7 separate regions of the Homo sapiens genome follow, and all the other regions are linked to region 1. The links come from fine-mapping of genetic effects on gene expression. A gene starts in region 1. Each other region holds a variant in brackets. All regions are shown on one strand. Distances are from middle to middle. Region 1 holds the start of GRK5 (G protein-coupled receptor kinase 5). Region 2 overlaps GRK5 (G protein-coupled receptor kinase 5). Region 3 overlaps GRK5 (G protein-coupled receptor kinase 5). Region 4 overlaps GRK5 (G protein-coupled receptor kinase 5). Region 5 overlaps GRK5 (G protein-coupled receptor kinase 5). Region 6 overlaps GRK5 (G protein-coupled receptor kinase 5). Region 7 overlaps GRK5 (G protein-coupled receptor kinase 5).

What was found. PIP is the estimated chance that this variant, and not a neighbour inherited with it, causes the effect.
Region 2: its variant is fine-mapped to the expression of GRK5 in whole blood (INTERVAL, PIP above 0.99).
Region 3: its variant is fine-mapped to the expression of GRK5 in whole blood (TOPMed, PIP above 0.99).
Region 4: its variant is fine-mapped to the expression of GRK5 in whole blood (TOPMed, PIP above 0.99).
Region 5: its variant is fine-mapped to the expression of GRK5 in whole blood (INTERVAL, PIP above 0.99). The same link has a PIP of 0.9 or more in platelets.
Region 6: its variant is fine-mapped to the expression of GRK5 in whole blood (INTERVAL, PIP 0.97).
Region 7: its variant is fine-mapped to the expression of GRK5 in whole blood (INTERVAL, PIP 0.97).

What each region holds. Positions count from the first base shown.
Region 1 is chr10:119,205,741-119,209,740 of GRCh38, reverse strand. GRK5 (G protein-coupled receptor kinase 5) reads right to left here and starts at 2,170. Exons shown (of 16, transcript NM_005308.3): 1 at 1,772-2,170. The coding sequence starts at 1,823. It overlaps GRK5-IT1 (GRK5 intronic transcript 1), which reads right to left and starts at 1,320. Exons shown (of 2, transcript NR_186528.1): 1 at 1,091-1,320. RefSeq lists silencers at 1,744-1,793, 1,844-1,913, 2,124-2,953 and enhancers at 3,294-3,403, 3,424-3,473, 3,584-3,663.
Region 2 is chr10:119,290,443-119,294,442 of GRCh38, reverse strand. The region is part of intron 1 of GRK5 (G protein-coupled receptor kinase 5); the gene reads right to left. Among named protein-coding and RNA genes, the nearest start is that of GRK5-AS1, 47 kb to the left of the region's middle. The variant AC/C (reference allele first, on the strand shown) is at 1,593.
Region 3 is chr10:119,275,816-119,279,815 of GRCh38, reverse strand. All of the region lies in intron 1 of GRK5 (G protein-coupled receptor kinase 5), which reads right to left. Among named protein-coding and RNA genes, the nearest start is that of GRK5-AS1, 62 kb to the left of the region's middle. The variant G/A (reference allele first, on the strand shown) is at 2,174.
Region 4 is chr10:119,268,742-119,272,741 of GRCh38, reverse strand. All of the region lies in intron 1 of GRK5 (G protein-coupled receptor kinase 5), which reads right to left. Among named protein-coding and RNA genes, the nearest start is that of GRK5-IT1, 62 kb to the right of the region's middle. RefSeq lists enhancers at 3,413-3,662, 3,793-4,000. The variant G/C (reference allele first, on the strand shown) is at 1,586.
Region 5 is chr10:119,248,979-119,252,978 of GRCh38, reverse strand. The region is part of intron 1 of GRK5 (G protein-coupled receptor kinase 5); the gene reads right to left. Among named protein-coding and RNA genes, the nearest start is that of GRK5-IT1, 43 kb to the right of the region's middle. The variant T/C (reference allele first, on the strand shown) is at 2,235.
Region 6 is chr10:119,381,698-119,385,697 of GRCh38, reverse strand. All of the region lies in intron 3 of GRK5 (G protein-coupled receptor kinase 5), which reads right to left. Among named protein-coding and RNA genes, the nearest start is that of MIR4681, 5.7 kb to the right of the region's middle. The variant T/C (reference allele first, on the strand shown) is at 2,360.
Region 7 is chr10:119,393,211-119,397,210 of GRCh38, reverse strand. GRK5 (G protein-coupled receptor kinase 5) reads right to left here. Exons shown (of 16, transcript NM_005308.3): 4 at 439-516. Among named protein-coding and RNA genes, the nearest start is that of MIR4681, 17 kb to the right of the region's middle. The variant G/A (reference allele first, on the strand shown) is at 1,759.

The DNA of each region.
Region 1 (4,000 bases):
GAAATAATTTCAGAATGGAGCGAGAGTGAAAACTTTCCCAGCCCCCGAATCCTGAGATACACAACCGTGTCCCACCACTAGGTGGCCAGCTGCAAAGGCTGAAAGAGGGGCGGGGGAGGTGGAGGGCTGTTTTCTCTGCTTCCTCCCTTTCAGGACCATTCCCCAACCCAGAGGAGAGCCTACCAGCACCCACCTAGATCCTGTCCACTAAAAATGTCAGGTTAGGAAAAAAAAAAAAAAAAAAAAAAAAAAACCACACACACACACACAGCTCAGGCCTTAGAACCTGAAGTCACCAAGTAACAAGCCTCTCCTAAAAATTTATTCCCACCAAAGCTAAGCAATGGGAGGGAGACTAACCTGAATATTTTAAACTCTGCTGGGGTTTTCAAAGCACTGCCTCCCTTCGGGGCTTCTGAAATAAACCTTCTTGCCCACTGGCTGCTTTAGAGTGACAAGTGACGACGAAAGTAAGACACGAATGCCGGGTTGAGTTGCTGAAACGCTGCCCACGGAAGGCTATGCATCACCTACCCCCACAGTGTGTAGGGAGCCACAAGGTGATGGAACGGGCTGAATAAACACGAATCGTTTTATTGCTGGCCAGAAATTCTTCCCTTCATTCATCAAAGTAGGTGAATGAAAATATTAAGCAGGTAAGACATTTTCATGGGCTGCTCACCGAGTATCCTTCTAAACTCAAGCCCTTACTCAGTCTGCCTTCTACCTTGTATCAAATAAAGCGTTCTCCCGTGAAAGGGAAAAACCTCTTCCCCTTTTATGAAAAAGGTCGCACACTAGAGCTCAAATCTTGACCAGAAAAAAAAAAGGAAAATATGCGACATAAATTCCAGGTATTCCTAAATACATATGTTTACATGGACACAACACAATCATTTCAGGAAGCACCCAAGTTTCTGCCTCCCCCCCCTTTTTTCTGTTTTTCATCAAAAGGAAGAGTCAAAATATGCGTTCTTAGGGTTTGACTCAGGATCTTACACACTCCATTTAGACAATATTTCCTGCCAGCTAAATGCAGGAAATCTAATGATTTGCATAGAAAACGTATCTAAAGCACCAGCACACTTACCTTTCTTTTCTTAACTGAGCCAAAATCTAACAATTTCAGTTATCACACTCCCAGAAAAGAAAAACCTGAAATACTGAATTATTTTCTAGGTGGTCTGTACAGCCATCCTTTGATAATTCTATGAAAAGGCTAATTCCTCAACATCTGACTTTGCCTTTAAAAGGCTTCCTTCCACACGACGGGATTTCCCTAAGAAACATCCCAGCGGATGGTTTCCAGCAATAGTCTATATCAACTCAGCCTGCGCAGGCAAAGACTTGGCTTCTGCTCATTCCACCCCCGCCCCTCGAACACACACACCAGTTCACACAGAACCATCCCGGGCCGACTTGAAACGCTATTTTATGTGCATGTTTGCTCGTCGCTCCCCGAATGAATGCTTTTCCAACTGACCTTTCAACAGCTGCCGAGATGGCACGCTCTGCAGGGCGAGCGCTGGAAACTAGGAGATATGTTAGCATCCAAATCCCTGCAACCTTCTCAGCCCAAGTCCAGATTCTCTGAGCCCCAAGGCAGGAACCCTGAAGGGTCTGCAGAGCCGCTCTCCGAAGTGTCCTGCTCGCGACCCACTCGCCGGCAGCGGGCATCCTGCACGGGCGCAGCCCCAGCCCGCACGCCACCCGACACCCGCACCCTGGCCCGCGGCGGACGCGCCGGGCACGTACCGGCCCTGCCTCTTACCTTCCCTGGCTTTCAGCAAGACCGTGTTGGCCACGATGTTTTCCAGCTCCATTGACAGTCGGCGGTCAGCAACGGAGCCGGCCGGCGGGGCTGTCAGCGCCTGGGGTGCTGCCGCTGCTGCTGCCGCTGCTCGGGCTGCCGCCGCTGCTGCCGGAGCCGGGGGAGCCAGCAGCCCGCCTTGCCTACCGCATTATTCCTGCTCTCAGCCCAAGAGTTTCCCCCTCTGCAAAGAGGAGCCGCCGCCGCCGCCGCCGCCGCCGCCGCTTCTTCCTCCCTCTGTGTCCCCCCTCCCCCCTCCCTCAACACGCTCCCCCCCACCCCCCACCCTCCGCGTGTCTCTGTCACTCCATTCTCCTCCCCTCCGGCTCCCTCGGATGCTTTAATGCCTCGGATGCTTCTGCCTCCCCTCAGTCCCTCCCGGGGGTGTGGTACTAGCAGGCTCGGGCGGCCGCACTGCGCAAGCGCCGGCCCAGGCGCGCCTCCTGCCTCGGTGCTCGCGGCGCGGGGCCTGCTGGGAGCTGGAGTCCTCCCGGCCGCGCGGCGCCGGGGCTGAGCTGGGCTGGCGCGCGGCTGTCGGAGCGAGGACCCGCCCCGGGACGGCACCGAAAGCGAAGGCGGGCACCGCCCGGCCGACAGGCGACTCAAAGGCGGCCCAGCCAAGCCGAAGTCCCCAGCACCCCCCCGCAGGCTCCCGCTTGCCCCCTTCCCGCCCCGTCGCCAGCCCGGAAAGCGGAGTGCACGGGCCCCGGTGACGGCGCGTGAAGCGCCGCGGCCCGGCAGGAGCCAGTGCGGGTCCCGAGCCGTGCTCGGAGTGGGAGGGCTGCCAGCTCGGCCGCGCGCCACAGCCCGCTTCCTCCGGTCCGCGCCAGGCCCGCGAGGGTCTGAGTCCCGGGTCAGTGACGCGCGCCCAGGGTCCCCGCACGCGGCGGCGGCCGGCCCGGCCTGGCCCCTGCCCAGCGTCTCCCACGCGGCGCCTCGGGCCGCGGACAAAGATGCACTTTGTTTCCTCGGAGGGCGCGAAGGGCTCTGCGGGTCGGCTGCGACCCGGCGCTGGCTGCCCGCGCTGCTCTCGGTGCGACCCGAGCGCCCCCCGCCGGCCGCGGTGCGCGGCGCGGGGTCTACGCGGACGGCGCCTGGGGCTCAGGGTCCAGCGTGGGAAGCTGCTTATTCTGTGAATAAACTGCCTTCCAGCACACCCGGCCAGCAAATCCACGAGCCTCCCTGCAGCCAAACCCAGCCAGATTAAGTAATAAAAACGCAGACGGAGTCGCCGGAGTCTCCGCCGTGGGGAGCGTTAATGAGTAACAGCCAGGCCAGCGCCAAGCCGGCGTGGGATTAACGTTTTTAAATTCCGGTCTTATTTATTTTGGGGCTCTTAGCTCCTTCCAGTGTTATGCTCAGAACATCAGACTCCAGGTCTGTGCTCAGCCCCGTTTCCTTGCTCCCTCCGCTCCGAAGGCCCCACTCCTGGAAATGGGCTGTCTTCGGTCACCCGGGATCTGCCACGAGTGTCCTACAGCTGGGGGCGGGGCAGGCAGGCCCCAAAGAACAATGAGGCCTTTGCCTCCTCTGCATCCTGCGGGCCGGATATCCGTTCAGAAGCCGACTCTGGGCCTTCTCTGTCCAGAAGGAGGAAACCCTCTGTCCCCAGGGCTGCCAGGAAGTCGCAGGGAGGTGCCGAGAGAAACAGAGAACAGTTATTATGCATTGGAGAATATAAAGAAATCAATAAACCTTCCAGGCCTTGGAAACTGGTCTGGTCACTGATTGTAACAACCCAAGATTACCTGCTTTCCTGGGGGAGTATACCCACCACCACCACTTCCTGGTGTCTAGACTTGGGTCAGTGAGTCTCCCAGGGCCTCATTTATCTTGTCTGCAAAATGGGGGCAACAACAGTTTACCTGTCAGAAGGCGGAGGGCTCAGCGGGTAACTTTTCAGGCACTTACCACTCCAGGAATTACTGTTCTAAGCAATCCAGGCTTGGTCTTTGCTACATATTCACGTGCCTAGAGCCCTAACCTTTAATGAAAGGATCTCTCTCAGACAGCGAGACCCCTAAAGCTGGCAGCTCCTAGAGCCCTCCACCAACCACGCTGGTCACTTGCTGGCAGCATAGGGCCTGATGAAGCCCGAAGTTTGTTTATTCGGCTAACATAAAAAAAAAAAGAAAGAAAATTTTTGAATGCCTTTAGATGGCTTATGCACCTTAACAATTTTCTTGGGCC
Region 2 (4,000 bases), 85 kb before region 1:
GCCTGCCTGGGAAATCTGCTTTTGGGATTCAACATTTCCCTGCAACCCAGCCCCTCACCCCAACTCCTAGGTCCTGGCAGAGGGCTGGGGGGACACGTCTAACCAACCGAGATGTGGTCCTCACCCGCAAGAGCACCTGCTGGGTTGGATCAGGCCTTGTGGACCCATTAAAAGTGGTTATAGTCTCACCTTACCAAGAAATTGAGACTAGGACAGGTTCTGAAATATGCTCGAGTGGCAGAGCAGAGATTTGAACTTGGGTCTGTGAAATGTTCTCATCACCACACATGCCTCTCACCCAGATCCAGGTACGCTTTCCTCCCTGCAGGAGGGGTCAGAGGCAAATACACATGCGTCTCCTCACACCATGAAAGTAAGTGGAGAAGCTGAGCCTCCCTCATTTCACAGCTCCTGGGTCTCTGTTTTTCCCCAACTCCACAAAGCAGAGGTGGGGGTGGAGGTTGAAAATGCTCAGCTCCCAGACCCCCGGGATTAGCAGGTGATTGTCAAGCATCTGAAAAGACACAGAGTGCTCTTGTCATTATTAGATCGTAATAGATTCATACTCACCCCCTCCATCTGAAGGCGTCTATTTCAGGTTTAACGTAACAATAGAGTATTGTTCCTACTCCAGACTCGGGTACCACCCCGAGGCGATGGCAGCACCCACCCAGCCCCACCCTGGCACTGACTGCTGCCTCGGGGCAGAGGCAGCACCACCCAGGCATCCAGGCCATCATCCACTCCCTCCTAGATTCCCAGCAAATCTCCTGGGCAGTGACGAGGAGGCCCAAGGTCTATCCGGAAGGAGGAATGTACAAAGAAGCCAATTTGCCTGATACTTGGTACCTGGCAATCCGCAGTCAACATAAACTATCCTCCCAATGCCCACGGCCAAAGGTCACCAGAGTGACAGACCCATGGCTGTGCACTGGGAGGTCAAAAGACAGACGAGGAACAACAATCACTTAATACACAGAGTGCTTGCTGTATACCCCATCTCTGCTCCTCAATTGTATTCAAGCTTTGCATTCAAGGTTTTACAACTATCCCATGGTAGAGCTTAGCATCTGTTAGCTAATGAAACAGACTGGGCGTCGCCAGAGAAAAGCACCCACTGGTCTCAAACTCCTGACCTCAAGTGATCCACCCACCTCAGCCTCCCAAAGTGCTGGAATCACAGGTGTGAGCCACGGCATCCAGCCACCTCAAGTCTCTTGTCTGTTAAATGGGAGATAAAAATATGTCCTCCACCTGTTTCACAAGAATGGGGTAAGATTCAAAGAGAGTAAGCCACTTCCTGGCTGCATAACCTTAAACAACAGCTTATACATAACTTCTTCAGGTCTTCGCTCTTTTATTTATAAGATGGGAAAATTCTTGTTCATACGGCTCCAGAATATGACAGGAGATGAAGCCACCAAATGCTGAGTGCAGTGCCTGGCCCAGAGCTTGAAGTTTCCCAGTATTCAATGATTAGAGGGTGCTTTGTAAAACATAAAGTCAACACGCAGTTGGCCTCCCATATCCACGGGCTCTGCATTTGTGGATTTAATCAACCATGGATTGAAAACATTCAGAAAAAAAAAAAA[AC/C]TGTATCTGTACTGAATATGTATGGACTTTTTCTGTTGCCATTATTCCCTAAACAATACAGTATAGCAACTATTTACATAGCATTTACATTATATCTAGAGATGAGTTAAAATATACCAGAGGCTGTGTATAGGTTATATGCAAATATGACACCATTTTCTGTCAGGGACTTGTGCATCTGCAGATTTTGGTATCCTCAGGAGGTCCTGGAACCAATCCCTCACAGACACCTAGGAAAAACTATGATTGGAGAGCCTTGTCCCTCACCGCATCCCATCTAGCACACAGCAACCTTAAGTTTGTGTGCAATTTCAAATGTACTTAGGCCCTGAGGGTGAGAATTAGGTTTGGGGAGGTTTAGGGTATTGGGTTTTTTTAAATTATCTGAAAGACCCCAAAATAGCCACCTGCCCAAGGCAGCAACCCAGAAGCAATGAGCAGATGAACATGGGGGCTATCCCTGTGAAGCCGAGGCACCATGTGTTTGTGAAGGAAGAGGAAGAAAGGAGGATGAGGAGGAGAAGGAGGAATAGGAGGAGAAGGAGGAAGAGGAGGAGAAAGAGGAAGAGGAGGAGAAGGAGGAGGAAGAGGAAGAGGAGGGGAAGGAGGAATAGGAGGAGAAGGAGGAAGAGGAGGAGGAGGAATAGGAGAAGGAGGAAGAGGAGGAGGAGGAAGAGGAGGAGGAGGAAGAGGAGGAGGAAGAGGAGGAGAAGGAGGAAGATGAGGAGAGGGAGGAAGAGGAGAAGGAGGAAGAGGAGAAGGAGGAGGAAGAGGAGGAGAAGGAGGAAGAGGAGGAGGAGAAGGAGGAAGAGGAGGAGAAGAAGGAGGAAGAGGAGGAGAAGGAGGAAGAGGAGGAGAAGAAGGAGGAAGAGGAGGAGAAGGAGGAAGAGGAGGAGAAGGAGGAAAAAGAGGAGGAAAAGAAGGAGGAAGAAGAAGAGGAGGAGGAGGAAGAAGATGAGCAGAAGGAGGAGGAGGATGAGGAGGAAAAGGAGAAGAAGGAAGAGAATGAGGATAAAGAGGAGAATGAGGATAAGGAGCAGGATGAGGAGGAAGAGAAGAAGGAGGAGGATGAGGATAAGGAGGAGGATGAGGAAGAGGATGAAGAGGAAGAAGAGAAGAAGGAGGAGGATGAGGATAAGGAGGAGGATCAGGAAGAGGATGAGGAGGAAGAAGAGAAGGAGGAGGATGAGGAGGAAGAGGAGGAGGAAGAAGAGAAGGAGGAAGAGGAGGAAGAAGAGGAGGAGGAAGAGGAGGAGGAGGAGGAAGAGGAGGAGGAGGAAGAGGAGGAGGAGGAAGAGGAGGAGGAGGAAGAGGAGGAGGAGGAAGAGGAGGAGGAGGAGGCAGCAGCAGCAGTTCCTTCCTGGCTCCAGGAAGCAGCTCTGCACCCACCAGCGCCCGAGGCAGCCGTGGTCACACCATCACACCCAGCTCCAGACTGAACAAAGGATCCTGCCAGTGGCCACAGGGAGCCTGCACCCAGACCTGTTTTTCCAAGGATGCCAGGCTGAACGCCCAACCCTGGGTGTAGCTAAATGGGTCTAGCTGGGTGTAGCTTCACTGCATCTCCTGCCGAATTGGTGATACCGCAAATCCAAAGGAGCCCTGCTTCACCTCCAATGGCAGCTTTCAGAAAGTAGAAGGGATCAGTCTACACGAAACATGAAGATCATGGAGAAAAATGTACAACCAGCCAGATCACCCCATACCCTGCGGCTGGCTCTGGGGCCTCTAGCACATCCCCCATCCCAAATTCACCTACCAATCTAATGTCCGCTCATCCCTCAAGGACTGACTTGCAGAAGTCTTGCCCCTCTGCAAAGCCACCACTACAGAACAATCTGTCTGACCCTCCTGTTCTCCCACAATCCTCCTCACTCCATCCTGGGCTCATTCACTGAATAATCATGCTCCTGTCTCTGACTTGGACAGGCAGTGGCTTTGCTGCCAGGAACACAAGGATGGAAAGCAGCCCCTCCTTAGAGGAGCCCAGCCCAGAAGATGAGACAAACAAGGAAGAGATGATTATGTCTCAACACAGGGCTGTTGCAGGACCGATGTGAGCAGAAGGCTACACACACACAGAAGGGGAAACCCAGCCCAAGGAATCTAGAAGGCTCCCCGGAGGTGGGATGTCTCAGAGGGACTCGGAAGGACAAGTAGGTAGCCACCAAGCAGAAGAGGACAGGACAACATTCTAAGCAGAAAGGTTTCCAAGGGCTGTGTGAGTCCTTGGGAATGGCTGGATTGCGGGGTACCTGGGAAGGGAAGACAGTGCCTGCCTTCTAGAGGCAGAAGTGAGAACCACTTTGTGAAAAGGAAATGGTCAGATGCAGCTTTAAAATCGTCACGATGTCAGCAAAACCAGGAGGACAGCATTTTAGGGGCTATTGCAAAAGTCCGAGAGAAG
Region 3 (4,000 bases), 70 kb before region 1:
TGATCCCCTAGAGAATGGAGTAGGCTCCTCGAGGGAGAGCACTCACTAGAACACCAGGCAGTTACTGGCACGCACATCAGTGCTGCTGCGTGGCTCTTCTTGCCCTGCAGCGTGGCTCTTCTTGCCCTGCAGCGTTGGAGCTGGCCTCGGCCACAAAGTGCCAGAGGGCTGCAGGCCACCGCCACTCACTCCTTGAGAACCACGGCACGTTTTGAAGGACACACCATCAACAGGAATGAGGAGCCCTTGCTGCTGTCACTGGAGTCAAGTTGGTCTTAACCATCCACTCCCACCCCCCTAGTAGCACCGAGCCCTCCTCCTTCCATCTTCTTTCATCAGAAAACTGGATCTTCCCACTTTCTCTCCCCCAGGATGCTGAGCTGCACAAGGGGAAGAACTATCCAGCTCATCTTTCTATCATAAGCACTGCACTCAGGGCTCAGCACCTGTGATAAGCAGAATTGTATGCCCCCAAATTCCTGTGTTGAAGTTCTAACCCCCAGCACCTCAGAACATGACTGTATTTGGAGAAATTTGAGGATAAGGCCTTTAAAGAGGAGATCATGCAAAAATGAGGCCATTCATTAGGCTGGGCCCCAGCCCAGTGTGACTGATATCTTTATAAAAGAGGTCAGGGGCCAGGCGCAGTGGCTCACGCCTGTAATCCCAGCACTTTGGGAGGCCAAGGCGGGTGGATCACGAGGTCAGGAGATCGAGACCATCCTGGCTAACATGGTGAAACCCCGTCTCTACTAAAAAAAATACAAAAAATTAGCTTGGCATGGTGGCACACGCCTGTAATCCCAGCTACTCGGGAGACAGAGGTGGGAGAATTGCTTGAACCCAGGAGTGAGAGGTTGCAGTGAGCCAAGACTGCACCACTGCACTCCAGCCTGGGCAACAGAGCGAGACTCCGTCTTGAAGAAAAAAGAAGAGGTCAGGACACAGAAAGACACCGGGGTGCAGGTGCATACAGGAAGGACCATGTGGGCTCAGAGCAAGGGGGCGGCCATCTCCTAGCCAAGGAGGGAGGGCTCCAGGGACCCCAATCCTGCTGGCACCTAGGCCTTGAACTTCCAGCCTCCAGACTGGGAGAAAATAACGTCTCATTGTTAAAGCCCCCAGCAAATGAATACAGAACCTAGGAAGGGGCAATGAATGAGTGATAGGTGGAAGGGCTAAGAAGAAAAGAGGAGGGAGAGGAAAGAGACGTGCTCAGATCTGTCTCTTCTGGACATCCGATCCCAGGCTGTCTCTTCAGTGGGCCCAAGTCCAACTAGCAGTCAGCTCAGAAATGATCCCTGAGGCATCGAAGCTTTCACAAGGAGGCCACAAAAGTCGGCTGCCTCTTTAAGACCTCCCTGTGGGACACAGCGACATTGGATAAGGGACTCGCCACACAGCTTGCCAGCCCTACAGAGAGTCAACGCATCTGCCATGGCTTCCCGAAGGCAGTTATGGAGAGAAAGAACTTGAGTGTTCCCCTTCTGCTTGTCCAGCACCCCAAGCAGAGGGGCGGCCTGCAGTGAGGTGCCAAGGCCAAGCTAGCCCTGAGAGAACAGGTGGAGACGGGCACATAGGAGCCATCGCTCAGGGCCATTAGACCGTCTCGGGAAGGGAGAGGCCACAGGAGAATTGGGGAAGCTTATCTAAAAACAACGATTCCTTGTCCCAAAGAATAACCACTTTGGAAAACAGGTTGTCAATTTCTGGAAAAGTTAAACCTATACCTACCATATGATCCAGATGTTCCTAAGTATTTACTCAAGAGAAAAGGAAATCTCTGTCCATAGAGAGACTAGAAACAACCCACCTGCGCAAACAGTTGAGTGGGTAAACAAACTGTGGTCTATCGATACAGTGGGTCACTACTCAATAAGAAAAAGGAATGAACTACTGATACGCCAACAGTGTAGATGAATCTCAAAATCTTCATGCTGAGTAAGTAAAGGCACATGAGAAAGGGTACTTGCTATATGATTCCATCTATAGACAAATCCAGAAAATACAAGCAAATCCAGAAAATACAAGCGAATCCAGAGCGACAGAAAGCAAGAACAGTGGCTGCTTAGGGTTCAGGGGACAGGAAGGGATGACAGGGCAGGATTATAAAGGGGCATGAGTAAACTTTCAGCAGTGATGGATAACTTGTTTGTGGTATGTAGATTCACAC[G/A]GGTATGGATATATCCTAACTTCTCAAATCATATTCTTTAAATATGTGTGGCTTACTGTCTGTCAATTACACTCAATAAAGTGGTTTTGAAAGAGTACGGATTCCTGGGTCCCAGCCTGGAGAGTCAAGGTCTGTTGTGGCAGGGGTGTCGCAGAGAGCAGAAGAGGGGGAGAGGGGTGTAGCCTCCACTGGCACCCTGGAGCAGGTACAGAATGCATGCAGAGATCATGCCTCAACATCAACAATTATTCCTCCTGGGAAACTACAGACATCGTTATTTTTATTTTGACATCAGGAAACCCCTTCGCGTCCTCCACAACTAGTTTGGAGAGCCACTGGGAAGCAAGAAGTTCACGCAGTCAGCCAGGTGTTGGGTGCCTCCACCCAGCATGGTGGTCTGTGGGCTCTCTTGGGGGTCTGGCCGAAATGATCAAGGTGTCGGCACCCGACACACAAGGTGCGGCAGCACCCAGCAAGAGAATCCCAATCAGCCAACCTTCTGGATCCATGACCCACTGATGCTGCACTTGAAGACATGGAGGTTAAAGATTTGTTCACCAAATTAGGCTAAAACGTGGTCACATGATTCAGAGGTTTGGCCAAGGCATCGGATTTTCCCAAATCACAAAGGCAATGCATGGATATAGGGATATATTAACTTCATGTGCCAATATAAATTGGTACAGAAGTGATGTGTAACGTAATAATAATTGATCATGGTACGACCCTTGTGAACTGCAGGAAGCTATTCCTCTTTCACACAAGAGCCCTAGAGGAGAAGTTAAGACTTGAGTTCAGGTCCCGCTGTGGCAGGACTCCCAAAAGTCCATCCCCGCTTTGACTTTGACAGTTGAATTCCAACTTCTTGGAGTTTTCTACCTTACCCTCCCAGCTGTGTTGCTAAAATGTCAAAGGCAGCTTCAAGAAAACCAAAAACACTCTCTGATTTCACTTTTAAAACGTCAGTGTGGCAATTCCTAAGGGATCTAGAACTAGAAATACCATTTGACCCAGCCATCCCATTACTGGGTATATACCCAAAAGACTATAAATCATGCTGCTATAAAGACACATGCACACGTATGTTTATTGCGGCACTATTCACAATAGCAAAGACTTGGAACCAACCCAAATGTCCAACAATGATAGACTGGATTAAGAAAATGTGGCACATATACACCATGGAACACTATGCAGCCATAAAAAATGATGAGTTCATGTCCTTTGTAGGGACATGGATGAAATTGGAAATCATCATTCTCAGTAAACTATAGCAAGGACAAAAAACCAAACACCACGTGTTCTCATTCATAGGTGGGAATTGAACAATGAGAACACATAGACACAGGAAGGGGACTGTTGTGGGGTGGGAGGAGGGGGGAGGGATAGCATTAGGAGATATATCTAATGCTAAATGACGAGTTAATGGGTGCAGCACACCAGCATGGCACATGTATACATATGTAACTAACCTGCACATTGTGCACATGTACCCTAAAACTTAAAGTGTAATAAAAAAAAGAAAAACTCACCATTTACAACAGAGTCTGAGCTGCATGCCTTTACAATCAAAACCCAGCGTATCCCAGCTCTGAGGTATGAAACTTTAATCTGGCAAACAGAGGAGGAAGGACACTGAGACCTCCTTCAAACCCAAATGAGGGGGATTCTCAAAACCTCCTGAGGAGCTAGCACAGCTATGGAAAATCGGGTCACTGTCTGTGTTTGCAGTATTGCTTAGCGAGACGGTCCCCAAACTCCTGCGGCCCTCCCTTTCCTCACTGATGTTGAATTCGGAACACTAAGCGCATAACACTCATTTTTACA
Region 4 (4,000 bases), 63 kb before region 1:
TCATGGGTCAGGGCAAAACCTCTACTATGCAGGGCTCTGTGCTAGGCCCCGCCCAAGCTCTTCACAAACACTAGCACACTTAATGCTCGCAACGACCCCATGAAATAGAGATCTCATCCACTCAGTTTCTTGTTTCTTTCTTTCTTTCTTTTTTTTTTTTTTTTTTGAGATAGAATCTTGCTCTGTCATCCAGGCTGGAGTGCAACTGCATGATCTCGGCTCACTGCAACCTCCGCCTCCCAGGTTTAGGTGATTCTCCTACCTCAGCCTCCTGAGTAGCTGGGATTATAGTCACCCGCCATCATGCCTGGCTAATTTTTGTATTTTTGTAGAGACAGGGTTTCACCATGTTGGCCAGTCTGGTCTTGAACTCCTGACCTCAGGTGATCCGCCCACCTCAGCCTCCTAAAGTGCTGGGATTACAGGCGTGAGCCACCACGCCCGGCCTCATGCACTCAGCTTTACACATGAGAAAAGCTCTGAGTAACAAGTAACACATCCAAGCTCACACAGCTGGTGAGAGCAGAGGCCAGGGTGCAAACCCAGGACCGTCCCATTTAGCATCTATGCCCTGAGCTACCATGCGATTCAGCCGGCACAGGGTCCCATACAAGGCAGAAGTTCAGAACATTTGGAACCATCTCTGCTGAACGGGGCATCACCACTACATCTAGGAGGGCCGCGTCAGCCTACAGGGCCAGAAATCCAGGTTCTATTCCTAGCTCAAGGGGGCCCGCAGGAAGGCTCTTCCCAGCAGAGTCATGAGACTGTGGCAAGCCCACAAAACAGGGCCCCACAGACAAGGAATAAGAGTAGGCATCATGCCAAATGATTTCCACAGATGAACTCCTTCAGCCTCCCGAGTACCTACGAGGTTAGTGCTGTCTTCACAGATGAGGAAACACACACATATTAGGCAAGCAACTTCCCCAACGTCACACAGCTAATCAAAGTGCTGGAGCTGGGACTGGCAACTCCAGAGTCACGCTCCAGAGTCCACCTGCTGCTAAACCTCGTCACCAACCTAGTGCTCACACACCTGTTTTTCCCTGACGAGTCAAAGGCCCCACGTTCCCCTCTTCCATTGCCAAAGGTGGCGACAAAACCCCGCACACACCAGCCCAGCACTGATGGGGTGAGTCATTTACGAGCTCCGGACCATCCAAGGTCTTCAGGTTCAAGGAGCTGGTGACTCAGTGCAGCCACCCCGTCCAGGGCTCCAAATTCCTCTTTGTCAAGTGTGCAGATCTGTATATGCTAAATGTCTGTTTACTAGAGCTAAACAAAGAAGTCAATGCAGGCAAACAAAATCTGTAGGAAACACATTGTTTCAGCCAGTCTCTGGGACAGCAAACAATAGAAGGCAAAAGGCTATGCAGAGAACTTGGTAAAGAGAAACTGCCTTGGAGTTCCCAAACCTGCAGACCCTTGATTGTGTTGGCAGCTCGAGGGGATGAGAGAGCCTCTAAAGAGGCCAGGCGTGTCTGAGAGGGCCTCTCTGAATGACCAGCGCCCAAAGGGCGTGGAGGATGTGGCTGTACACGTGTGGCCCGGGCAGGTTTCCGGTGAACACTCCCTCCCTAAC[G/C]GCGCCGGCGCCACCCCAGGTCCTGGTGCTATCTGACAGTGTGAGCTTACTTACGAAAGCCCGGTCTGCTATTCAGTCACTTCTAGGCGGGTCCTGTTATTATTATTAACAAAGATAAGATTACGACTAATAATAACACTCATGACATTTAAATGCATTTCATCCTATCGCTTCAGCCTTGCTCTCTGAGGTAGGGTAGAGTTCAAATTCCACATTTGTGTTCCGCCAGGGGCCCAGCATGCCAACTCACTCAAACACAGATGAAATTTCCAGAGCTTTCTTAAGAATGAAGTGAGTTTTTTTCCTTTGCACTAACGTGCCAAGCACACTGCAGTTTGAGCTGCTGGAAGGAAAATGCCTATTGTTACACCTACAAAACCCTACTTAACTCTCAGCTTCACACCTCTCAGGAGAAACTGCTGAAAATCTCCTAGAGACTGCCCCCCAGCTAATTTGTGCATTCCCCCAGCATTTGAGGGTCTTCTGCAGAGAGGGCTGTGGGCCGCATGACAGACCTGCACCTGCACAGAGCAGCTTATGGGCCTGTCATGGAGGTGAACAATTGTCCCCTGGTTTCTTAGGGGATTGGTTCTGGTGCCCCCCTCAGATGGCAAAGTCCATGGATGCTCAAGTCCCTGATATAAAATGGTGTAGTATTTGTATAAAGCCCATGCATATCCTCCTATACACTTTACATCATCTCTAGATTACTTCTAATACCTAATACAATGTAAGTGCTATGTGTATACAGTTGCTATAACGTATTGTTTAGGGAATAATGACAAGGAAAATGTTTGTACATGTTCAGTACAGACCCAAGCATCCTTTTATTTCTGAGTATTTTCAATCTGCGGTCAGTTGTATCCACAGATGTGAAAGTTGCAGATACAGAAGGCTGACTGGACATCAATGAAGGTACAATTACACATTTTGGTGACAAGTGGCAAAGAGATGAACAGAGGACTGTGATGAAGAATGGCAGGGCTGGCAGTGGGCTGCAAAGGAGCCCTGCTAGTTAGGATGCAAATAACAGGCCCCCAAGAAGGTAATATTTATGCCCAACCCTGAATGCCAATGAGCAGTGAAGGAATGTGGAGAGGAGAGCACGGGACTCTGGGCAGAGGGAACAGCAATAGGAAGGTACATTCAAGGTACTCCAAGGAGGCTGGAGGAGCAGACAAAGTGTGGGGGACTGGCACAAGGCCCCCTCCCTCCCAAAGGCCAACACCCCAGGCTTTGGAGCTGGCTGGCCCCCTCCAAGGTGGCTCTGAGAAAGAGGCTTGGAGAGCCAACTCAGCAACTTTTTTTTTTTTTTTTTTTTTTTAAGATGGAGTCTCACTCCATCTTGCAGGCTGGAGTGCAGTGGTGCGATCTCAGCTCACTGCAACCTCCGCCTTCTGGGTTCAAGCAATTCTCCTGCCTCAGCCTCCCAAGTAGCTGGGATTACAGGAGCACACCACCATGCCCGGCTAATTTTTTTGTATTTTTAGTAGAGACAGGGTTTTACCATGTTGGCCAGGCTGGTCTCAAACTCCTGACCTCAGGTGATCCACCCGCTTTGGCCTCCCAAAGTGCTAAGATTACAGGCGTGAACCACTGTGCCTGGCCATTATATCAGTCTTGACCCTAAACCTAACCCTGACTCCCCAGGATGAGAGCACGCAAAGCTCTCTGAACAGGGCCTACCCACGGAAGCCTCATAATGTGAGCCCATTACAGGGCTAACCACACGGGTGCTGCTACCCCAGGAACCCTCGGCTGCATGTTCAGGGACTATAGGACGTCCTCAGGAAACCCCTTCCATGGGTTTGGGGGCTCCCAACATCCACCTGTACCATTCTTGCTTCTCACGGGAAGTAGGCCACAACTATTGTCTATTGTTTGTTCTCCAGCAAGTCACCCTAACTGTCAGAGAAGAGGCTCGTGCTTCAACAAGCAGGGGGAACGCGTCAGGTCATCAAACTTCCTGTGAAAAGTCCCTCTTTGTTTAGAAAAGATGCTGGTTTGTTTCTATGTTTCTGTTAGAGAACAAACAGAAAGCTGCCTGGAAGAGTCTAGAATGAGGTAAGAGAGTTCCAGTCAGCCAGTGGCAGAGGCCCCCAAATCTACCCTGAGCAGAGAGCAGATGTCATCTGCCTGTGACAGGAAGCCCATGGGAAACAGATACCATCTCCCTCTGGGCCCCAAGGCCCATGGGGACTCCGCTGCAGGGTGAGGGCACCCCCTTTGTTATCTACTCACAAGTCACCCCAGAAGTGAGGACAGCTGGCTCCTGGGCCGTGGTGGATGATGGATGAATCCCACCTTGAGATCAAGGCCTGGAGACAGGGCCAGGGTAGCGTTTCTTAGGCACTAAAGAGGCAGCACCAGTCCAACCCTATTCATTACTAGCTCAGCCTTTCCTCAGTGTCCTGA
Region 5 (4,000 bases), 43 kb before region 1:
CCATCATTTTCCCTAAGACCACCTGGCCTTTGGAACACTTGGTTTATTGGCCCCAGGGGAGGAGGGTGACTGACCTGATACATCTGGGCAAGTTCCAAAGTTCAAAGTTTCAACCATGGCCTCATCTCTCAATTTGTTCAGGGAAGAAAAATGCTATTTATTGAGGTATCCTCTACGACCCATAAAAATGAGGCAAAAGCCACAGAGTGACCCCAAGCCCTTCACAGACACTTGCCCCCAAATCAGGAACTCAGGACTCAAAGCAAATTTAGGAAGGCCACATTTCCGTCTCTTAACAGCACCATCTTTTTCTACAAATCAGGAGAAAAATAGAAAGGTAGACTGTTCTAGTTGGAAGTCAGCTTTACGAGAAACATGAGGACCAGAAGGAAGACACTATTTGCACAAGATCGTGCTGCTACCCGGGGTAGAACTAAAACCATGCCCAGGTCTCGAGACACCCGGTCCAGTGCCCTTCCCCGCCTCTCCAGCGTAGCCCTCTGCACCCAGCTCAGGGTTCTGGCCCATCCACACGGCCCAGAGAGAGACACTTCTCCCCTACCCCCAGCCCTGGGAAAGGGCTGCACGCTGGCCCCTAGGATCCAGCTGAAAGCCTCTCCTGGCAACTTCACCCTGTCTCTGCCCTTCAGGTTCCAAAAGGAGAAACAAGACAGCTCTCTGCCCGTCGCAGGCCTGGGCTGCCCAGAGGTCACAGCACAGTGATCCATCAACTGTCAACTCCACCAGGACCTGTAGCTGGGGCTGGCAAGCTCACCCCACCCAGATGGTTTCCCTTTGCATGGCTGTCTCCAGGATGGTCCTGCTACTCACACAGCTGCCCCTATCGGCACGAGCACGCCACGCAGGCCAGCAGCAAGAGGGATGGTCAGGGAGAGTGAAGACATATGTCTGACTTAGACTTCAGTCACCTGAGCCAGAATTGTACTTGGCACATCTGTCCAGATGCAGCAATATCTCAAGGCAGGGAGGGTGGGATGAAAAGAAGAAAATCAAGTTCTAATCCTTAGTGGAAGGGCTGAGGATTGGATATGCACAGGGCGGAGAAGCAGCTTGCAAATTCTAGACCACCAAAATCGAGGCGAGTGGTTCTCAACCAGGAGCAATTTTACCCCCAAGAGGACATTTGACAAAGTCTGGAGACATTTTTGGTTGTCATAACTATGAAGCTAAAGGCCACAGATGCTGTTAAACATCATCCAACGCACAGGCCGGCCCCCATGACAAAGAATTATCCAGCCCCAGATGGCAACGGTGTCAAGGTTGACAAACCCTGCTTTAGGTGTGTAGATGCTAGAAGGTTTTTTGTTTTATTTTCTTTCCCCCAGACATCTTTCATCATCGCTTTAGAAGACAGCAAGAAAATAACGTGGGAGTATGACAATTACAACTCCAGATAAATGTTCGCAGCCTGTCAGAATGGAAGCCTGGGCTTCTTCCTCTGTTCCAGTGACTCAGTAACTGAAGCTGCGGAGAGGAAGGCCAAGGCTTCGGGAGACAGCTCCGAGTAAAGACAGGCTTAAGACAAAGTTCTGAGTATGTTCTTGAAAAGCTCAGGCATCACAGAAAGGCATTGGTGATGCCATAAACATCCAGCTTGTGCTGCCTTTGAAATCTGATTGAACAAGAAATACTCTTACAGAGCCTTTTGGTTATAGTCTGCTTTTTGTTTTAACATGGTTTTAATCAGGAAATCATGGCTCTTTGTTCCTTCAGGAAATTCTGTCAAATGGTTCACATTCCTTGTAAAGAACTACTGTCTATGCAAATTAAGATTCAGAGTTTTAAATTCAAACAGTTTGGGAGCAAGCAGCGTTTTGTTGTTGTTTCTTAATGTCAACGTGAGAAAAAAAAAAAGTGAGGGGAGGAAAGAATGCAAATGTTCGTCATTGAAAACACACACAAAACCAGAAACATTTTCCCCTCATGCACAAGGTCAGGAGTCTCTGGGTGAATGAAGCTGCTTCATGTTTTGCAGACGCGCTGATGGAACATGGGAAATACTGTTGCAAAGGCCCTCGATAGGAGAGCGTGGAGATGCCTAGAAATAGACATATCACCCAACAACGGGTTATCTATGAGAACTGCATTGTTCTCAGTGTGACTGGGCAGCACAGGCTATGGCATCGGGATATGAAAAATATAGTAACATACTCTATTACACATCCTCTTTACTCAGAGCAAGAGGAGATAAACACAGGTCATGACTAAGCCAC[T/C]TTCTCCAACGTTCACTTCCAATTTTGTGTGTAGCTCTGATCCAGTCATCAAGGTGCTGACTTAAGGAAAAAGTGTGGATGGAATATGTGGTGTAGGGCCAGGCACAGTGGCTCATGCCTGTAATCCCAGCACTTTGGGAGGCCGAGGCAGTAGGATCATTTGAGTCCAGGAGTTCAAGACCTGGGCAACAAAGTGAGACCTTGACTGTACAAAAAAAAAAAAAAAATTTAAATGAGGCTGTAGGATGCCTGGAGCCTGGGAGATCAAGGTTGTAATAGGTTGTGATGACGCCACTGCACTCCAGCCTGGGTGACAGAGCGAGACCCTGCCTCAAATAAAAGAAAAAGAAAAAGTTAAAGAAAATGACTATCTCTGACGTTGCCTTATCCTTCCTGGAATTAGGGAGAATGGCAAAGAAAGTTGTATGAAGGCCCCCACAACTGAGTTCAAACCCTACATCCACAAGTAGCTTCAGGACCTGGAGCAGGTGATTTAATTTCTCTGAGCCCCTCAGTTTCTTCATCTGTAAAATGAAAATTTACAGGTCAAAGGCTTAACACAGAAGAGACTCTCACTCAACAAACAATGAGCATGTTCTGACTGAAGGCTTTCCAGGGAGATTCACCCCACAGGTCTGGGCACAGCACTCCTAGACTCTGAAGAGCCTCTGTGGAGGTCAGAGGCTCTTTGAGGATTCAGTGTTCTTTTCTAAGCCCTAGTCCCTATCCAGAGTTGCCAAGAATGCGGGAAAGCAGAGACTCCACTGTTGGGAGCATGACTTAGTGGGGCCATTCTGGAAGGCAATTTGTTAAGACCCTTCATCTTTAAGCCCACTGCCAGGTATCTGTGACATCCTTGCACACGTGCACAAAGAGTTATGCACTTACAATAACAATGACACAGTAATAGTAAACTTTTTTGAGCATTTAAAAAGTTCAAAGTCAGCTGGACGCAGTGGCTCACGCCTATAATCCCAGCATTTTGGGAGGCCGAGGTAGGCAGATCACCTGAGGTCAGGAGTTCAAGACCAGCCTGGCCAACATGATGAAACCCCATCTCTACTAAAAATATTTAAAAAATTAGATGGGCATGGTGGAGCGCACCTGTAGTCCCAGCTACTTAGGAGGCTGAGACAAGAGAATTGCTTGAACCTGGGAGATGGAGATTGCAGTGAGCCGAGATCGCGCCATTGCACTCCAGCCTGGGCAACAGAGTGAGACTCCATCTCAAATAAGTAAAATAAAATAAAATAAAATGTTTAAAGTGTTTACACACAATTCATACATATTTGATACATGATATACCTGGTGTGTCACATAATATTTATTTGATATATGTACTAAGTAACTTAGATAAGCCTACAAAGTAGGTATTCTACATATGATATTTATTTGATATATATATTAAGTCACTTCACCCTACAAGGTAGGTATTATTAGTATCTCCTTTTTGTTTTTCGTTTTTTGTTTTTTGAGACGAAGTTTCGCTCTTGTTGCCCAGGCTGGAGCACAATGGCACGATCTCGGCTCACTGCAACCTCCGCTTCCTGGGTTCAAGTTATTCTCCTGTCTCAGCCTCCTGAGTAGCTGGGATTACAGGCACCCGCCACCATGCCCGGCTAATTTTTTTGTATATTTAGTAAAGACGGGGTTTCACCATGTTGACCAGGCTGGTCTTGAACTTCTGACCTCAGGTGATCCACCCACCTCAGCCTCCCAAAATGCTGGGATTACAGGCATGAGCCACCGCGCCCAGCTAGTATCTC
Region 6 (4,000 bases), 180 kb before region 1:
ATCTTTCCATTTGTTCAGGTCAAAACTTTGAAGTCTTCCTTAACTCTTCTCTCATCCCCAATCCATCAGAGAATACACCTTCCACACAAGTCTCAAATCCAACCACTTCTCACCACCGCCAGGGGCTACTAAGATGGCTTGAGCCACCAGCTGCTCTCACCTGGACTGCTGCAACAGCCTCCTAGCAGATCTCCCTGCTCCCACCTCAGCCCCTCAAAGCCTGCTCCCAACATGGAAGCCAGAGGGATTCTTGAAAAACCTAAGTCACAGATGGGCATGGTGGTGCACACCCGTATTTGCAGCTACTTAGGAGGCCAAGGTAGGAAGATCACTTGAGTCCAGGAGGTTGAGACTGCAATGAGCTACGAACCCACCCCTGCACTCCAGCCTGGATGACAGAGTGAGACCCTGTCTCATAAATAAAATAAAATAAAATAAAATAAAACCCCAAGTCAGACCATGCCACTGCTCTGCTAAAAACCCTCCAGTGGCTCCCCCATTTCACCCAAAGTCAAAGTTCTCTGATGGCACAAAGTTTTACATGATCACCTCCTCTCCTACCCCCTCTGCCCCTCCTCCCTCCCCTCCAACTGCGGACACTCGTGCCTTCAGGCCTTTGTGCTGGCTGTTCCCTGCCTGTAACACCCTTTCACCACATATTCACTTGGCTAACTCCTCCAACGACTTCCTGGTCCTCAGTCAAATGTCGCCTTTTCAAAGACTCCAATGCTGACCATCCTACTTCATGATACAACCAGCCTCCCCATATCCAAACTCCCAACCTCCTTTAACCTGCTCCAGTTGTTTTTCCATCCCAGTTCTCACCTTCGAACATTCCATGTCATTGGCTTATGATGCTCATGGTCTCAGAGGCAGCATGATGCAGAGGAAGGAGCCTGGACTGGGAGCCAGGAGACCTGGGTTCTGGGCCTACCTCTGCCCCTCACATGCTCTTTGACTCTAGGCAAGCCACCAACCTCCACTGGGCCCAATCTGAGCATCACTCAACTGTTACGTGTGGCACTGTGGGCTGAGGATTCACAGACCATGGGCCACGTCTGTGCCACAAAGAGGCTCTGGCTAGTGGAGGAACAGGCACACAGACCCCTCAATGGCTAGGTTCACTGAGCCTCAGTGCTATTCCAGACATGGTTGTGAGCGGTAAGAACTCATGTAGTCTCTACCTAACACCTCGCCCATCATCAGATACAGCTATATCCCCACTTACAGATGAAGACACGAAGTACACGAGGGGTTAAACACCTGCCCATGGTCTCACCAACAGATGGTGGCAGAGCCATTTTGTCTTGGCATCCTATCTCTGGAGGCTGCACTCTGCATCATGCACCTCTGCCAGCACGGGGCAGCAGTGTGGCTCAGGTGCATGTGAGAAGCAAGCACCCACAGCAGAGGGGCACAGCAGGAGAGAGAGGAAGAGGGAGATCGGGAGGGCCTCTGAGAACAGGGGACAGAAGGACAAGTAGGCATTTGCCAGGCAAATGGGACTGTGGGGAGGATTTCAGGCAGGGAGGCCTGAGGGAGCTAGGGCCAAGAGGCTTGAACTGTCCTGGCAAGTCAGAAACGCCAGAAGTGGGTGGTCGGGCCAGAACACAGAGCTGAAGAAAGACTCCGGGAAGGCCAACGGTGAAAAGGTGGGCAGGAGCTGATGCTGGAAGATCTGGTAAGTCAGCCTCGGAACCTGGACTTTATCCTAGATGTCATTACTTCCCAACCCTGGATACACATTAAACCCCTGGGAGCTTTGAAAAATGCCAATAGGTGCTAGAATCGATGGCCTAGTGGTAATAACCCTTGTGCCAAACTGTGGCCTGCAACTGCTATGTCCCAGTAAAAGGAATCACAGCTCCTCTGAGAAACAATGGATCTAGTACAAGATGAGCCCAGAACCCTGCGTCATATCAGACAGCAAGGAGACTACTGATAACTGCTGGAGCCCAGCCAGGGACTCAGAAGCCAACCTGGAGAGGCCCCCACTAGCCACTGATGAGACGATGAGCATCAGTCAGGATAATGACTACAGTGCAACAATACACACGCAACATGTTTAAAACCACAAGTTAAAAATAGTTACTGCTACTGGAGGATGGTAGTGAACCAGTTTGGTATTTTAGAAACATTAATGCGAGAAAAGAATCAACCATTTCCTCTATGAACTTTACCACTGGGTCACCACATGGTCATCAAAAGGAAGTGCCTCTGTTGGCAAATGAAGAAGGAATGGCAGAATTAGAATGTTGCCATGTTGCAAGCCCTTGTTAATTAACAGATTCAGGTACAGACTAGCAATAGCTGCTACCATTTCAAAAAGAAAGACAACCAGATGGTGTATGTCCCCTGA[T/C]GGAAGAACATGAAACCACTGAGGAAGTCGAATCCCACTCCACCCTGCAAAAACGGAAACCGAATTTGGTCAAGTTTCTAGATCCAACTAGCAACGTATAAGAAATATAAAGGAGCCAGGCCAGGCGCGGTGGCTCACGCCTGTGGTTCCAGCACTTTGGGAGGCCGAGGTGGGTGGATCACGAGGTCAGGAGATCGAGACCATCCTGGCTAACACGGTGAGACCCCATCTCTACTAAAAATACAAAAAATTAGCCGGGTGTAGTGGCGGGCGCCTGTAGGCCCAGCTACTCGGGAGGCTGAGGCAGGAGAATGGTGTGAACCTGGGAGGCGGAGCTTGCAGTCTGCTGAGATCGCACCACTGTACTCCAGCCTGGGCAACAGAGCGAGACTCCATCTCAAAAACAAAAAAAAAAGAAAGAAATATAGAGGAGCCTGTTAAATGACATTTAGGGATAAGAATACAAAATTCAGACTGTGGGAAGCTCTTCTGTAGGAACAACAAATGTATTACAAAGGGGGATGGATGGTTATGGGGGAGCCTAGAGTCAAGAAAACATCAACAGATCACAACGTGTGGACCTTAGCCAGACCAGTTCAAACAAATACACATAAAATGTATGAGAACACTGGAAATCTGAATACTAACATTTGATGATAGGAAAGAATTTTTTAAGCTGTGATAGTACTATTTTTTAAAGAGCTCTTATTCAGAGATACATAATGAAAAGTTCACAGATGAGATAATATGTGAAAATTGCTACAAAGTGTTACAGAGTAAAGGATGGAGGAATGGATGAAAGAAGATTGGCCATGAGTTCATAATTGTGGGTTCATAAAGGTGGGGTGAAGGGTGCCTGGGGGTTCATTACACTATTCTGTCGACTTTTACTTTTTATAGCTTGAAATTTTCCATAATAAAAAGTTATTAAAATACTAGGCCCCACCTCCAGAGATTCAAATTAATTGGTCTGGGCTTCAGCTCAGGCTCTGGTGTGTTTTTAAGGCTCCCCAGGTGTTTCTAACGCCCAGCTAAGATTGAAAACTACTGTAATCACTCACACAAGAGGCGCCAAGAGCCTGCCCGAAGCCCAAGGCAGAGCCTCCCCTAAGCCCAAGGCAGAGCCTCCCCTAAGCCCAAGGCAGAGCCTGCAGAGGGGAGGGAGCTGGCCTGGGCAGGGTCAAGGAGCCAAGCACATGAGCCTGATCAGGTTGGGGAAGGACGAGGAGGGGAAGGCATCAAAGAGTGCAAAGATTTCAGGCTCGGGTGACTATAGGGTGCTGGTCACTGGAACAGGTAATGTCTCAGGGCTGGTAGCTTTGGGGTCCTGGGAGAAAGTCCTGAGTGCATTTGGGACTTACTGACTTTAAGGGGGCCTTTGTGACTTCAGTGGAGATGTCCAGTGGGCAATTTGGTTTGTGGGTCTAGAGATGCACATCGAGATCTTGAAGCAGATACAGAGACTTGAAACCCTAAAGGGTTGTCCCCCAAACTGAGATAGAGGTCGGGATGGCTGCAGCCAATGGTGGCATGAGGGCCCTTCAGGAAACAGCAGCCTCTCGGCCCCTGCACCTGGCGGGGAGGGGAGGGGCCTGGATGACTTCACACCCTTCATGACCGCTCTCCACTCCTCTTCCTTCC
Region 7 (4,000 bases), 190 kb before region 1:
CATTCTTTGATGTCGTTGGGCACCCCCTTTCCCTCCCAGTCAACCCCCAACACTTCCCCTCCACGCTGACCTCTCAGAACTGCCCTGCTAAGCCCTTCCTTCTGGGCACTTCTCCTGAACTTGGCCAGGCCTCCATCTGCCCTACCACAAATGGTTGGGTGTGGGCACACAGCAGCATGGTGACCCTTGAAGGGGCTGGGCCCCAAGAAGCAGGCATCCCGCCCCTACTCCAGTCCTGGCCTAGACCATCCCCATCTTGGCCCTGCCAGGCTTGGGCACTCTCTGGGGGAGGATGGGAACTGTGATCTCAGGAGGTCAACAACAGCCACCAGCCCAGCACTTAACAGCTCCCCATGTGGCCTGGCACAGACTTAGGGGCTCCTATTTTTGCATAAGGCCTCCTGTGCCACCTGCTGTGGGGTTTGGAAGACTCCTTACCTTTGGGGTGAGGTACTTGGTCATAATTTCCTTCCCTTTCTCTCCCAGTTTTTCATCTGGAGTAACTTCATATTCTGCCTAAAACAGAAGGAGAAAAAAGAACAATAACAGGTTTGCTCATGAGCTTCTTATAGTTACAGAACCTCACAGCCCCTGGAGGAAATCCCCTAGAGGCCACCTGACCAACCCCCTTCTCCTGCAGGTCAGGAAACCGGGGGGGAAGACCTGGCCACGGAGCCCCGATGTTTAGTCCAAACTACTTTGCCCTCTCTCACAGATGCTGGGTCTCAGGATGGCGGTGCTCCATGCAGACTGCACATCAGAATCAGCAGGGAGCCCTGAGCAAACACTGATGCTAGGCCCCACCCTAGACCCATGAAACCAGGCTTTCCAGTGGGCCATGAGGGCTGGCACCTGGGCAGCCGGGGTTGAAGACCACTGACTTAGATGAATCAAAGGAAACTACCAGAAAAATAACAGCCCACCAGACTGGAAGGCTGCCGAGAAGCTGCCTTAGGTCACTCAGACCTTGTAAGCTGTGTGATCGTAGACAATTTGCTTAACCCTTCTATAAAACGCAGATGGTACCAGCACCTAGGTATACACTGATTATACAGACGGAAGTGATCAAGCTCTTGGCCTGGGGCCTGGCCCATCATAAATAATAATAAACAGTTGCTATAGTTACCGCCATTGTGATTATTACACCTTGCAAGGATAAACAATAATGTGGATGCCTGGTCTTTTCCAGCTTTTCAGTTTACAAAGTGAACATACACAGGTTTTTTAAGATGTTCTTATCTGAACCTCGAAAGAGCCAGGGCAGTGACGCAGGAGAACAGGGGCTGCCATCCCAACCCCTCGTCTGTAGGTGGAGATCCCGAGGGCCGGCGGTGGGAAGGGACTTGCATAGGGTCATGCAGCGGGAGGTGGCAGGGCTGGGACTCGAACCTCCAAGCGCAGGGCTTCTCCTCAACCACACCACAGAATTTAGGACTCTGATAACTAGCCAAGCCAGGGGGCCCAAGCTCTAAAGATGGGAGGTCTCCAAAAAACAGACTTTTTAATTTCCCTGAATCCCAGAGGGGCTCCTTCGCTCACATCTGACGCACTCGCCACATGGATAAAGGGCCTCGAGTCAATAAAAAGCCTGAGTAAGCGGCCCTTTCTCATTTAGACAAAAGAGCTAATTGCAAATTGTTTATAACCATTTCAAAATCCACCACCCAAGGATTTGTCAGCCTCTGTCCAAAAGTACAGCTATTTCAAAAGAGGAAGGAAATGACACCAGCATAGACGGACCCGAACTCCTCCCCAGGC[G/A]TCCCACCATGCAGTCAGATGCCCAGCCGGCCCTCAGGGAAACTTCACACCTCAGTGTCTAGGGTCCGATTCCTCCCAGGCCAGCCAAAGGGAGCACGCAGGCGGCACTCGCAGTGACCACAGAGGCAGCCAGGCTCGTTTCCAACCACAGTGAGCGAGTGTCCTTGTCTTGCCCTCTCTCTTCTAATGGAGAGCCAAGATCCAATGATTTTCTCCCATGAAGAAACATGAACACTACAATCATTTAGATCACAGGGAGATAGGGCAGTGGTTCTGTAAGGAATCCCACCCCTCATTTTATAGGGCTGGACACAGAGGCTCAGAGAAGTCAGGGACTTGCCCAAGGTCCAAGGTCACAGCTGCTGGACTGGCGCGCTGGCCTCTGGATTCCCACTGCGCCGCGTGGGCAGAGCCTCTCCCCAGAGGTCAACTCCTCTTCCACATCAAGATGAGCCTTGAGGGACTGGGCACTTCTTGATGATTTGACTCGAGAGATGAATTCCTGAGATGCTTTAAGGTGGCTCTTTCTTCTTGACTTTTTCCTGTTATTTTCTTCCTCTGTGCCCCCTGTCGCTCTCCTAAACCTGAGTGCACATGTGTGCACACACACGTGCCCACAGACACAGATACACACACCCACACACACACCCACACACCCAAACATACACGTGCCCACACACACACAGATACACACCCACACACAGACACACACACACCCAAACATACACGTGCCCCCACACACACAGATACACACCCACACACACCCACACACACGTGCCCACAGACACAGATACACACACCCACACACACACCCACACACACACCCACACACCCAAACATACACGTGCCCACACACAGACACACACCCACACACAGACACACACACACCCAAACATACACGTGCCCCCACACACAGATACACACCCACACACACCCACACACACGTGCCCACAGACACGCAGATACACACACCCACACACATCCACACACGTGCCCACTAAGCAGATACACACACCCATACACGTACCCACACACCCCCACACACATGCCCACACACAGACACAGATACACACACCGACACCCACACACACCCACACACCCACATGCCCACACACAGACACACAGATACACACACCCACGTGCCCACACAGACACACAGATACACACCCACACACACGCCCACACACACACAGATACATCCACACACAGACACCCACACACCCACACCCACACGTACCCACACACAGATACACACCCCCATACACAGACACCCACACACACACTCAAACCCACACACAGACACACATACCCACAGATACCCACACACACACACACACCCCCCACACAGACGCAGACACACACAGATACCCACACACACCCACAGACACACACACACAACCACACACCCACAGATACCCATCCACACAAACACACCCGCACCCCCCCAGACCCAGACACACACACACATACCCACACACACCTACACACAGACACCCACACACAAACACCACACACCCACAGATACCCATCCACACAAACACACCCGCACCCCTACACACACACATACAGACACCCACACACAGACACACACCCCATATGGAGTGCTGATTCCAGGCTCACCCTACATGGCAGGGTATTATTATTATATCTACATGGTAGGTATTATTAGTCCCGATTTGCAGATGAAGAAACTAAGGGTCTAAGAGGTTCCAATACAGCACAGCTAGCAAGCGACGGGGCAGCAGTGGCGTCTCCAAAGGGGCTGAGCACTCTAGAGCCAGCTGCCTGCTGTTTTCCAGAATGAGAAGCACCCAGGGTCCTGCTGCCCCTGGACAGCCCGCCGTTGGTCCGGCACCGTGGGAATGTAGCTAGACTGCTCTGCAGGACGCAGGCCCTGGGCAAATGGCCGGCCATCATTTGGGGTAACTCTATACCATCCAGAACACTAGATTTGCACTGTACGAAAATACATCTGTGAAGGTGGCTCTATTTAACCAAATGGAGGCCTGGGGCTCACTAATCAGCCTCAATAACCAGCTAAAAATACTCTTGCTGTGGGTACTAAAACCCACGTTAAAAAAATAACATCCCTTTCAGGTCACCTGCCTCCCGGCAGAGGCCCCGCCGGTGGATGGGCACGCAGGTCCACAGGGCGGCAGAGGGAGCACGCGGGGACAGGCCTCCCCTGCCGGGATCAAAAGGCCTTTCTCAAAGAGTCCGTGCCAGGCCACCACTTGAAGAG